Linked DNA regions of Homo sapiens. The main gene of each other region encodes a partner of the protein of the gene in region 2 in a complex. Each region holds a gene or a part of one and is shown on either strand. Other genes may lie near its edges. The genes, in order: PCNA and DTL. A codon is read from its position in the direction of its gene.

What was found.
Region 1: the proteins of DTL (region 2) and PCNA are in contact, whole or in part, in a crystal structure (PDB 6QC0), measured with the Homo sapiens proteins. Residues at the interface, in NP_057532.4 of Homo sapiens: Ser705 (codon at 1,380), Met706 (codon at 1,383), Arg707 (codon at 1,386), Lys708 (codon at 1,389), Ile709 (codon at 1,392), Cys710 (codon at 1,395), Tyr712 (codon at 1,401), Phe713 (codon at 1,404), His714 (codon at 1,407), Arg715 (codon at 1,410); in NP_002583.1 of Homo sapiens: Met40, Ser43, His44, Val45, Ser46, Leu47, Glu124, Gln125, Leu126, Gly127, Ile128, Pro129, Ala208, Tyr211, Asp232, Val233, Pro234, Tyr250, Leu251, Ala252, Pro253, Lys254, Ile255, Glu256.

Annotation. Positions count from the first base shown.
Region 1 is NC_000020.11:5,116,807-5,124,860, forward strand, and holds the start of PCNA (proliferating cell nuclear antigen), read right to left. Parts: upstream 3,153-8,054; 5' UTR 2,993-3,152; coding exon 2,772-2,992; intron 2,061-2,771; coding exon 1,963-2,060; intron 1,872-1,962; coding exon 1,804-1,871; intron 859-1,803; coding exon 664-858; intron 1-663. UniProt on the Homo sapiens protein: Auxiliary protein of DNA polymerase delta and epsilon, is involved in the control of eukaryotic DNA replication by increasing the polymerase's processibility during elongation of the leading strand.
Region 2 is NC_000001.11:212,101,481-212,105,537, forward strand, and holds the end of DTL (denticleless protein homolog), read left to right. Parts: intron 1-1,361; coding exon 1,362-1,460; 3' UTR 1,461-3,533; downstream 3,534-4,057. UniProt on the Homo sapiens protein: Substrate-specific adapter of a DCX (DDB1-CUL4-X-box) E3 ubiquitin-protein ligase complex required for cell cycle control, DNA damage response and translesion DNA synthesis.

The DNA.
Region 1 (8,054 bases), on a different chromosome or scaffold from region 2:
CACACCCGGCTAATTTTTATATTTTTAGTAGAGATGGGGTTTTGCCATGTTCTTTCTATTTTGGTTAAACAAGGGCTCTCTAGGTACTCTCAAAGTTGCATGGAGTCTGCTTTCTAGCCTTAGTGAGAAGTCTCCTTCCTGTTTAACCTTTGATTCCTACAGCCTGTGACTTTGGCTAAATTGTCACTTAAGGTTGCTCAGCCTGCTTCTCCACCTTTAAAATGGGCTACCAATTGGACCCACAACATGTAAGCTAATATTAGGATTACATAAGTGCTCCAAACAGGTAGACTTTTACTCCTAACCATATCCTTCTATTGAGCTGCTGTCCTATGCTCAATTATTTGGTAAGAGAGTAAGTATCTCCAGAAAGCTAAAGGTTATACGCCTAACTTCCCAATCCTACCCTTAAGAGCCGGTGTGGACTTGATCCATAAACCACTGTTCTGTGGTATGTACACGTGCTGAATTTGTATTCCCTTCTTGCAAATATAATTCTAAATTGGATGACACTTATAAATCATTCGCAGATTTCAACAGTATCTCAATTTTCAGAAATTACTTGGGATCCAATTCTGTCTACTTTTAATTTTAGCAATTAACCTAATAAGCAGTATTATAATTCTCTTCAAACTATTTTCTTTTTACTTAAAAACTACTTACAGCTTCCTCCTCTTTATCGACATTACTTGTCTGTGACAATTTAATGTTTCCATTTCCAAGTTCTCCACTTGCAGAAAATTTCACTCCGTCTTTTGCACAGGAAATTACAACAGCATCTCCAATATGGCTGAGATCTCGGCATATACGTGCAAATTCACCAGAAGGCATCTTTACTACACAGCTGTACTCCTGTTCCTATTAAGAACAAAAATTTTCCAAAAGTTAATTGTTAGAAATTTAATGATTTGGCACCCTCACTTTCTTAAAAGGCAACACCTAAACAACTCAGAATCAATATTTTCTGATTACTTTAAAATATGACTTGCGTAATTTCTTAACAAACTCCACTCAAAAAAATAAATGGCTATTAAATGCACCATCCAGGGAACAAGAGCCTCCTCCTCCTCATCCTCCAGGGATAAAGTAAGAGAACATTAGAGTATGGCACAGAAATCATGATGGCGCAAGCAGGCCTAACTACTTTCTAAAAGAAAGCAAGAGAATATATTAGGCATTTTCAACATTCAAACATTTCTTCTCTCCTTTGGTGTTTATAAACCTAACCTGGATAAATTTCTTCCAAGTCAGCTTTAAAATCCACTTAATAAAAAGCAAGCATTCTAGAAGGAAACAAATTTTAAAAGAGGTTCATGGAAGTTAATGCAAATAGACAACTGGCAGTAAACAATAAATTTAACCTGTGAGTTTTAGACTTGTGGTGAACAACTATCCAAATACTAAAATCTCTCTTTGAAACATGCACCAGTAGATATATTTCTAGAAAAAGTTGTTATGAAGTAGGCTTAAATTATATTAACATATCTTGACGGAGGAGGATCACTTGAGGCCAGGAGTTCCAGACCAGCCTGGGCAAGACTGCCCCCACGCCCACACACAAAAATGAAAAAATTAGCCAGGTGTGGTGGGACAGGCCCGTAGTCCTTCCTAGCCACTTAGGAGACTAAGGCAAGAGGACTGCTTGAGCCCAGGAATCCCAGGTTAGAGAGAGCTATATGGCACTACTGCACTCCAGCCTGGGCAACAGAGCCAAGACCCTGTCTGTAAAAATAAACAAACATTCTATGACATAACTATCGTGCCTGTGTACAGCACTCTCTACAATGAGAAACTGATACTCACTGGAATTCCAAGTTGTTCAACATCTAAATCCATCAACTTCATTTCATAGTCTGAAACTTTCTCCTGGTCTACCAAAAGAAAGCAGATGCTTTTGAGAAATACTGACACAGAGTTTTGATTTTCTGTAGCTTCGTGACTCGGTAAAAAGGTACGACTTACTTGGTGCTTCAAATACTAGCGCCAAGGTATCCGCGTTATCTTCGGCCCTTAGTGTAATGATATCTTCATTGCCGGCGCATTTTAGTATTTTGGACATACTAGAAGACAGGAGACACATGCTTTAAAATCAACGCCGTCTGCTGAAGGGCTGTATTTCGAACGCGGTTAGAAGGGGTTACCACTCTCACCCATCAGGCCGTCTCAGAACTGGTGGAGGGTAAGCGGACTGCTGGAGGATGCCATTATTAATGCAGACGTTTTGGGACGCATCTGGCAGTATTTATACTAAAATACCACCAGCAGTGTCCCTTCTGGATAGAAACAATCTCCTGCCACTAAGTAGGATGACAGGCTGCCACATTTCTCGCAAGGGCATTATAAAGCATTTAAAGTCAACCGCGACTGAGCCGGGAGGATCGCTTGAGCCCAGAAGTTGGAGACCAGCCCGGGCAACACACCGAGACCGTCTCAGAAACAAGAAAGCCACAGCTAAAGCGTCCATTCAAGGCCAACAGGATTTAGTGAGCAAAGAGCCCTGGAACAGTGTTCCTGGCACTGCGGAAAAACCCTTGATTTTCCCGCCACCACCCGCTTTGTGACTTTGGCGCGAAAAAGCAGGTTCGCGCAGCAGCCAGCGCGGGCTTTTCCGAACCGCGCGCTCAGCTGGGCCCCACCCCACTGCGTGGCAGGCCAATGAGAAGGCGCGGATGGCCCACGCCAGCCAATGAGGGCTAGGCTCGAAAGCGCTCCCGCCAAGCACCGGAGGTGCAGGCGGGCCGGGGCCGGCTTCCCGGGGCCGCGAGGCTCACCTGGTGAGGTTCACGCCCATGGCCAGGTTGCGGTCGCAGCGGTAGGTGTCGAAGCCCTCAGACCGCAGGGTGAGCTGCACCAAAGAGACGTGGGACGAGTCCATGCTCTGCAGGTTTACACCGCTGGAGCTAATATCCCAGCAGGCCTCGTTGATGAGGTCCTTGAGTGCCTCCAACACCTTCTTGAGGATGGAGCCCTGGACCAGGCGCGCCTCGAACATGGTGGCGGAGTGGCAACAACGCCGCTACAGGCAGGCGGGAAGGAGGAAAGTCTAGCTGGTTTCGGCTTCAGGAGCCTCAGAGCGAGCGGGCGAACGTCGCGACGACCGGCTGAGACCTAGAAAGACAACGACCACTCTGCTACGCCTGCAACCGTTTAATGCCGCCGCGTCCGCAAGCGCGCGCTCTCACCCTGCGCCGCGTTGCGACGTCACCACGCTGTCCAGCCCACGGCCTTGCGGGGAAGACTTTAGGGCCAATCGTGTCCATGCTCCCCGCGAGGCCCGCCCCCTAGAGCATACATTGGAGGAAGCGGGCGCAGGGCGGGGCAGCGTCGCGCAGGTCTCCCCGCCTCTTTGACTCCTGAACCCGGCCGCAGAACAAGTCCGGGCATATGTGGAGATCGGGTCCCGGTCCCGGCTCGTCAAGCCCCAGCTTTATGGTGGCTCCTCAGCCTCCCACTACGTGGGTAGAAAGTTTCCAGCCACGAAAGTGAAAGTGAAATGCAAATCAAGCCTACCGGGAGGAAAAGCCTCCTTGCAGCCTGAAGAGAGTACAGCTGCTGCAAATATGCACTTTATTTTTCAATTACAGAATTGATGCGCTCGTAGGTGTCACAAGATAAAGAGGTGAATTGTTCTGTTAAACTTAGCTCCCTATCATCCTCTTAACATTCCCCCGCCAGCTCTTATAATCACTCAATCGTTCATTGTATAAAGCTTTTAAAGCTTTTTTAAAAGTTCGAATACACTTTTTTTTTTTCAAAAATGCACTCATTCCGTAAACACTTGGAAAAGTACTTAATAAAGTACATTTAATTTTATGCCACGTACATCTTTTATCATATCAGTACCTCTTTAAAACATAGCATCACATGTATATAACATAATTTATCAATCTCCTGTTGTTTAACTACAAACACCTTTGAGCACTTAGGCAATTTTGGTGATATCAACTCCTTGAAGTAATACAGCTGAGTCAAAGAGCGTACACATTTAATATTTTTTCTTTTCTTTTCCTTTCTTTTTGAGATGGAGTCCTGCTCTGTCATCCAGGCTGGAGTACAGTGGCGCGATCTCAGCTCATTGCAACCTCCGCCTCCCAGGTTCAAGTGAGTCTCCTGCCTCAGCCTCCCGAGTATCTGGGATTACAGGTGCCTACCACCACCCCCGGCTAATTTTTGTATTATTATTATTATTTTTTTTTAGTAGAGACGGGGTTTCACCATGTTGGCCAGGCTGGTCTTGAACACCTGACCTGAGGTGATCCACCTGCCTCGGCCTCTCAAAGTGCTGGGATTACAGGCGTGAGCCACCACGCCCAGCCAGAAATTTTCAATTGTTACAGGATGGACAGGATTTGTTGTTTCTCTCTTGCTTTCTTCACACCACTTCTCTTTAGTTACTTTTAATACCTTGGTCAGCAGAATTCTTTAGTTTTTCTACCATGTATCTAGGTATGGAGTTAGTTTTATTTGTCTTGTTGAGGGAACTGAAGATTCATTTCAAGTCTGACATATTCTCAATCATTATGGCTTCAAATATCTCCTCTCCTTAGTCTATTCTTTATCTCTGGAATGCCTTTCTTTCCTTTTTTTTTTTTTTTTTTTTTTCCTAGTTCAGCTGTGACTCCATACAAGGTTCTAAGATGAGTTTCACAGTCTCTTCCCTGGATTTTGTGGAGACTTAACTTTACCCTTCTGTATCAGCCTCTTAAAGCACTGGGTCAGCCTTAAAAGGGAACAGGAAAGGGCATTTCTATTATAAGATGCCTTCAATTGTAATATGTACCATTATTTTATGTAGCACAAGCAAGAAAACTGTCAAACTTTTTTTTTTATTATTTTCTAGAGAGGGGAGTCTCCCTTTGACACCCAGGCTGGAGTGCAGTGGCAAGATGACTACTCACTGCCACCTCCAACTTCTAGGCTCGAGAGATCCTCTTGCCACCTCCCAAATAGCTGGGACTACAGGGGTGCACCACTGTACCTGGCTAATTTTTAAATGTTTTTGTAGAGAGAAGGTCCCACTATGTCGCTCTGGCTGGTCTCCAACTCCTGGGCTCAAGCAATCTTCCCAATCGGTCTCCCAAAGTGTGAGATTACAGGCATGAGCCACTGTGCCCAGCCTCAAACTGTTACACAATGCTTTATCACTTAGAATTTCTTTTTTTTTTTCTTTTTCTTTTTCTTTTTTTTTTTTCTGAGACAGAGTCTCACTCTATCACCCAGGCTGGAGTGCAGTGGTGTGATCTTGGCTAACCGCAATCTCCGCCTCCTGGGTTCAAGCAATTCTCATGCCTCAGCCTCCTGAATAGCTAGGATTACAGGCATGCGCCATCACACCTGGCTAATTTTTGTATTTTTAGTAGAGACGGGGTTTTGCCATGTTGGCCAGGTTGGTCTTGAACTCCTGACCTCATGTGATCTGCCTGCCTTGGCCTCCCAAAGTGCTGGGATTACAGGCATGAGCCACCGCGCCCGGGTCTATTTTGTTTTAAAAGAACTTTTAGACTTTAAAAACATTCTTATTATATATTACTCTTGTGCAAACATGAAAAAATTTAAGCTACATTGGTTAAGGCATTCCTACTGTTTCTCCACTCAGTTAGTTGCTGATTCTGCTGTTTTTCTGTATAATATCCTACTCTGTGTTGTCAAGGGTATTGATGATGCAGTATTTTTCAATAGTGCTATTCTATTGTCTCTGGAATTTCTTGCAAGCCTCTGCTACTCATTTGTAAGTTTTGATGTTGGCACTTTCTTGCTTTATGTGTGATGGACTACCCATTTGCATACATCTCAATATCAAAACATAATACAGCATCATCTGTTTGTGGTTCTTTTCCTTTCTTGGGTCCGTTAAAATCTCAGTTCCTTTGCAAAATGTGGAATGTGTTCCTTCCTCCAGTGAGGAACATTTGCTTCACTAAAAACAAATGCATATGCTCCACTACTCTGTTTCAGTTCTGTCTGCTTACATAATAACATTTTGGTTTAATGCCAAATTACATGTAATAGATTTGAAGACATTTTAAATGACAAACTCTATCCATGGGGGATCCACCATGTACATCAATCTGTTTATTTCTGCTCTATTACAGAAGTGATGTCCTCCTAAAAGTGTCAAATGATAAAGAGGTGTACAGTTACGTAAATTTTATGTTAAACTGAAATGAGGACATAAACATGCCTATGACTGTGGTCAGAGAAGGCCTCTCTGAGGAGGTAGCATCTTATCAGAGAAGACAGCTGCTTGGAGAGTTGGAAAAAAGCATTCTAGGCTGAGAGAATAGCATGATTATAAAGGTCAGCATACTTGGAATATATTCAGACAAGTTTGATGTAGAACTCAGACTGATGTGTCTGAAGCAAGAGTGGTGCAAGGTGAGGTTGCAGAGAGGCTGGGGTGAGCTCTTGCAGGACTTTGTAGGCTCTCTAAAAGTGCAAGGGAATGTGGTCAACAGCAGATCTTTGATGTGATCCAATTTACATTTTAAGTGGCTACTCTAACATCTAGTAAAGGTACTATTGGATCAGTGGGAGAAAGAATGAAGTAAATTTTGATCAGATAATTGGTTAAACTATTAGAAAAGAATAAAAGCTGTAGACTTTTCTGGATGGGCGCAGTGGCTCATGCCTGTAATCCCAGAACTTTGGGAGGCTGAGGTAGGTGGATCATCTGAGGTCAGGAGTTCGAGACCAGCCAGGCCAACATGGTGAAACCCCGTCTCTACTAAAAATACAAAAATTAGCTGGGCGTGGTGGTGCACACCTGTAATTCCAGATACTAGGGAGGCTGACGCAGGAGAATTGCTTGAACCCGGGAGGCAGAGGTTGCAGTGAACCAAGATTGCGCCACTGTACTCCAGCCTGGGTGACAGAGCAAACCTCCATCTCAAAAAAAAAAAAAAAGACTTTTCCTAATAATTATTCACTAAATTCTAGATAAAGAATTCAAATTCAAATCTTGACCCAATAAGAAATGGAAAAATATTTTGGTAAATATTTATGAGATCTTCCTATGGGCTTCCAAACATAAGAAAAAAACCCATAAAACATAATGAATAACCATACAAGTTTTAAGACTTCAGTATGCCTCAAAGGATTATATTGGTTAGTATAGTTTAGGTTTCAGTGACAGAGAACTCAACTTGAATGGATTAAGAGAAATAGAAAATTTATTCATCTAAACAAAAAGCCAGAGGTATCTGGCCTCCACTGTCCAGTCCTAGTCTTCATAAACGTGAAGTTTGTTAGCCACATTAATAAGCAAAGAAATGTAAATTCAATGGAGACAGAATTTTAACCTACCAAATTAATAAAAATCATGTTAACACCTGGTGTGTTAGGAAGGATTCAAGGAAGTAGGCACTTAAATACATTGCAAGTGGGAGTATACATTGGTATAATTTTTCTGGTGGAAACTTAGAAATGTGTATCAAAAGCCTTAGAATTTTACTTATTCTTTGACACAGAAATTCGATCTCTAGGGTTTTTTCCTACAGAAGAAATCAGGGGCATTTACCAAGATCAAGCATGCTTAAGAATGTTTCTTGAGCCAGGTGCAGTGGCTGATGCCTGTAATCCCAGCACTTTGGGAGGCCCAGGTGGGCGGATCACCTGAGGTCAAGAATTCAAAACCAGCCTGACCTAAAACCCCTGTCTCTACTAAAAATACAAAAATTAGCCAGCTGTGGTGGCGGGCGCCTGTAGTCCCAGCTACTCGGGAGGCTGAGACAGGAGAATTGCTTGAACCTGGGAGGCGGAGGTTGCAGTGAGCCGAGATCACACCATTGCACTCCAGCCTGAGCAACAAGAGGGAAACTGTCTAAAAAAAAAAAACAAAAAACAAACAAAAAGAAAACAAAAAACGAAAAGAGAGAGAGAGAAGGGCTCTAAAGCTGGCCTAAAGCCCTATTAGCATCACTTCCACCAGACCCCTGTTCGTCACACAGTACTGACTTCAGGAATATACTTGATCTGAGTTCCATTAACCTGAGAGGGCTGAGTGTAATGGATGAGAAGTTTGTTCAGACCACATGTTATCCATCCTAGTAATCATG
Region 2 (4,057 bases):
CTTTTTATAGATAAAGCTGTTGTTCATGGGAAAGTTGCCAACATCCATAAGTAGATTTCCAGTTTGTAATTCCATTTTGTGATTATTTAAAATACAGTGAAACTTAGATACTTACAAAACAATTTGAGTGCAAAATCTTTCTAGATTTTTATGACTTCTCCACAATCTTTTATAATCATTTTGCCACACCACAGTAATACTTTTGACACCTATATCTATTCTTTTTAACATTCAGTGTAGTGTCACTTATCTTTTTAGGACTCATTTCATTGACTGACTTAATATTTAAATTAGATAATATCAGTCATCAGTGATTGATGGCAGAAATAGGTTTGTGAACCTTGAAAAACAAGATTCATTACAGTGGTGGAGGCAGAAGTAGCTGAGTGCATTGGGTGAGCTATGGGCACCAGTCAGAGAGAATAAAAAGCTTCTGTTGTTTGCATGTGAAGGGGAGATGGGTTAAGGAAGTTTCCACTGTACTTCACAGTAGCTCTTGTGGTGGCGGGATGATTGAAATAGAATCCAGAATCATGATCAGCATCATCTGCCATTTTAAAGGGCAGAAGCTAGATAACCAACCTTAGGCCAGTTTTAGTTTAAAAAGTGTTCATAACCCCGACCTGCTCTCATGAAGACCTATCCCATAATTTTAGAAAAATAAACTGATAGATTTTAAAGACAACTTAGTACACAAACTGCAATCAAGACCTTGCTGTAGAAAGTGGAGAAAAAAGACAGTTATAAGGAATCTTTCCTTCTCTCAAAATTATGACTGCTCTTTATCCCTAGCCAAAATTTCTATTTTTTTTTTCAAGGGAGCTGGTCTCAGCTATGTGTTAGCAGAAAAGTAGTTTCAATGAAAAACTATTTTCACTGATACATAAATCTTAAAATCTTTAAAAAGTAGAAACAGTGTGCTGGTCTTGTAATTTATTTGAAGCTAACATTTCTTAAAAATTTTTTACCTTTATATGATGATAATGTCAACCTTCAGAAGAGAGTAACATCTTCCATTTGAATACCTATCTTGTTTATAAATTGGGGGGGCTGATTTATTCATTTATTTCAAAAAGGATAGTAATTGTAACTTATTTGTTTCTTATTAGGAGACTTAGCTAGTAAATGTTTTCTATTCACATAAGAAGTCTATGCCTTCTTTCCCTACATATCATCTGTTAAGTTTTTACTATAGTCAGTACAAATCAGCCAAAAGAGACATTGCCATTGAAAGTATTTGGAGCTGAAAGCAGGCTAAACAATGAAATTTCTGGCAGCCTAATTTAAGGTATGCCTTAGTAATAACTTAGTAACAGTTGAACTTCAAGGAAATCTCTGAAATCTAAACTTTCTTCTTCTAGGTCACCATCACGCCCAGCTCCATGAGGAAAATCTGCACATACTTCCATAGAAAGTCCCAGGAGGACTTCTGTGGTCCTGAACACTCAACAGAATTATAGATTCTAATCTGAGTGAGTTACTGAGCTTTGGTCCACTAAAACAAGCTGAGCTTTGGTCCACTAAAACAAGATGAAAAATACAAGAGTGACTCTATAACTCTGGTCTTTAAGAAAGCTGCCTTTTCATTTTTAGACAAAATCTTTTCAACGCTGAAATGTACCTAATCTGGTTCTACTACCATAATGTATATGCAGCTTCCCGAGGATGAATGCTGTGTTTAAATTTCATAAAGTAAATTTGTCACTCTAGCATTTTGAATGAATAGTCTTCACTTTTTAAATTATTCATCTTCTCTATAATAATGACATCCCAGTTCATGGAGGCAAAAAACAAGTTTCTTGTTATCCTGAAACTTTCTATGCTCAGTGGAAAGTATCTGCCAGCCACAGCATGAGGCCTGTGAAGGCTGACTGAGAAATCCTCTGCTGAAGACCCCTGGTTCTGTTCTGCCTCCAACATGTATAATTTTATTTGAAATACATAATCTTTTCACTATGCTTTTGTGGGGTTTTTTTTAAGTATGTGTAAAAATGTGATGCTCAGATAAGTACATTTATATCAGTTCAGTGTTAAAATGCAGTCTCTTGAGTTAAAGTCATCTTTATTTTAAATGCAGTGATAAATGTCAACTCTTCGGAGAAACTAGGAGAACAACAACAGAAAGCTGTGTTTGTCTTTTTTCTCTCAAATATATCTCCCGTATGAGATTTCAGGTCCCCATGTTTTCACCAAGCAATCTGCTATGTCAGCCAACCCAACATCACTTTCTACAGGAGGTTATGATTTTTGCCATTTACTAGAGGAAGATGTTTTATGAAATCAATTTGGGGTTTGAATTCAGGTGCAGTCATCAGTTCTTTAGGGGCTGCAATGTTTTAAAAAAAATAAGTCATCAGATTTTAAGAAAAAAGTGATGATTTCTTATTGATATTTTTGTAACAGAATATAGCTCTTAACTGAAAATCCAGAACCAGAAACATAAATCTTGAGTTTCTTTTCATGTACATAAAAAGCAATAGCCTTTTAGTATAGATAGCCCTGAGCCAAAAAGTAATAGAATTTTCTCTAGATATTTAATACAGAGAGTGTATAGACTGACTCTAAGTTAATAATGTGCAAAATATCTTAAACATCCCTCCCCTTATTCAACAATTATGTATCAGTGATCTTGAACCATTGTTTTATATTTTTCACCTTTGTAACCTCATGGAAAGAGGCTTTACATACTTTCTATGTACTATTTACTTAGAAGGGAGCCCCCTTCCAGTCATGAAACTTCATTTGTTTTATCCATATCCCTGAGGACTGTGTAGACTTTATGTCAGTTTTTGTCATTATTTGAAAATCTATTCTGACAACTTTTTAATTCCTTTGATCTTATAAGTTAAAGCTGTAACAACTGAAATTGCATGGATCAAGTAAGCATAGTTTTATCCAGGGAGAAAAATAAAAGGAAGCCATAGAATTGCTCTGGTCAAAACCAAGCACACCATAGCCTTAACTGAATATTTAGGAAATCTGCCTAATCTGCTTATATTTGGTGTTTGTTTTTTGACTGTTGGGCTTTGGGAAGATGTTATTTATGACCAATATCTGCCAGTAACGCTGTTTATCTCACTTGCTTTGAAAGCCAATGGGGGAAAAAAATCCATGAAAAAAAAAAGATTGATAAAGTAGATGATTTTGTTTGTATCCCTACCCATCTCCTGGCAGCCCTACTGAGTGAAATTGGGATACATTTGGCTGTCAGAAATTATACCGAGTCTACTGGGTATAACATGTCTCACTTGGAAAGCTAGTACTTTTAAATGGGTGCCAAAGGTCAACTGTAATGAGATAATTATCCCTGCCTGTGTCCATGTCAGACTTTGAGCTGATCCTGAATAATAAAGCCTTTTACCTTATCTGATGTCCTTTTCTGAGCTTTTTGCATTACCTAGAAGCAGTCTACAAAAAAGAACTATAGTAGTCAAGAATCCCTTCTACTTGTTCATTAAAATGTTTATTCCCAAAGTTATAATCTATTTCAAGCTGAAAGAGCTTTTAATAAAAAACATCTTGCTTGGATCAGACTTTGAGCATTTAAGATGGCTTGGATTACTTGATAAAGCAGGGTGGAGTGATGTAGTTCTTTTTCTAAACAAGTATTTCCAGCACAAACTTTTCCATTTGAATACATTCCAAGCACTATTGCTAGGATCCCGTATTAGAGTTTGCTTTTGGCTGTTTCAACACGGGCCCTTAATTAAATTTTGTGAGGATGACTGATTAGTGTCTTCAAATGTCTCTTCATCTGGACTGCACATTTAACTGATGTTGGATCAAGACCATGTGTAGCTACTCTTGTGTTGAGGGTCAGCCCATTATCCCCATCCCCAGCCCTAACAGCTTAAAACAGCTTTAACTCCCATCTTGAAATTAGCCTATGGCCATGTTCATAACATAGGTAGTGTGTGGGTTCAACAAATGCTTTTTGAGAGCCTGTCATAGCCAACACACTACTGCTCTTAAGTCTGTTTTTCTGCTTTTCCTAGTCCCTAGTTCCTTTTACATTGCTCTTAAAGCAAAGGCCAAGTAGTCTAACAGAGAAAAATAA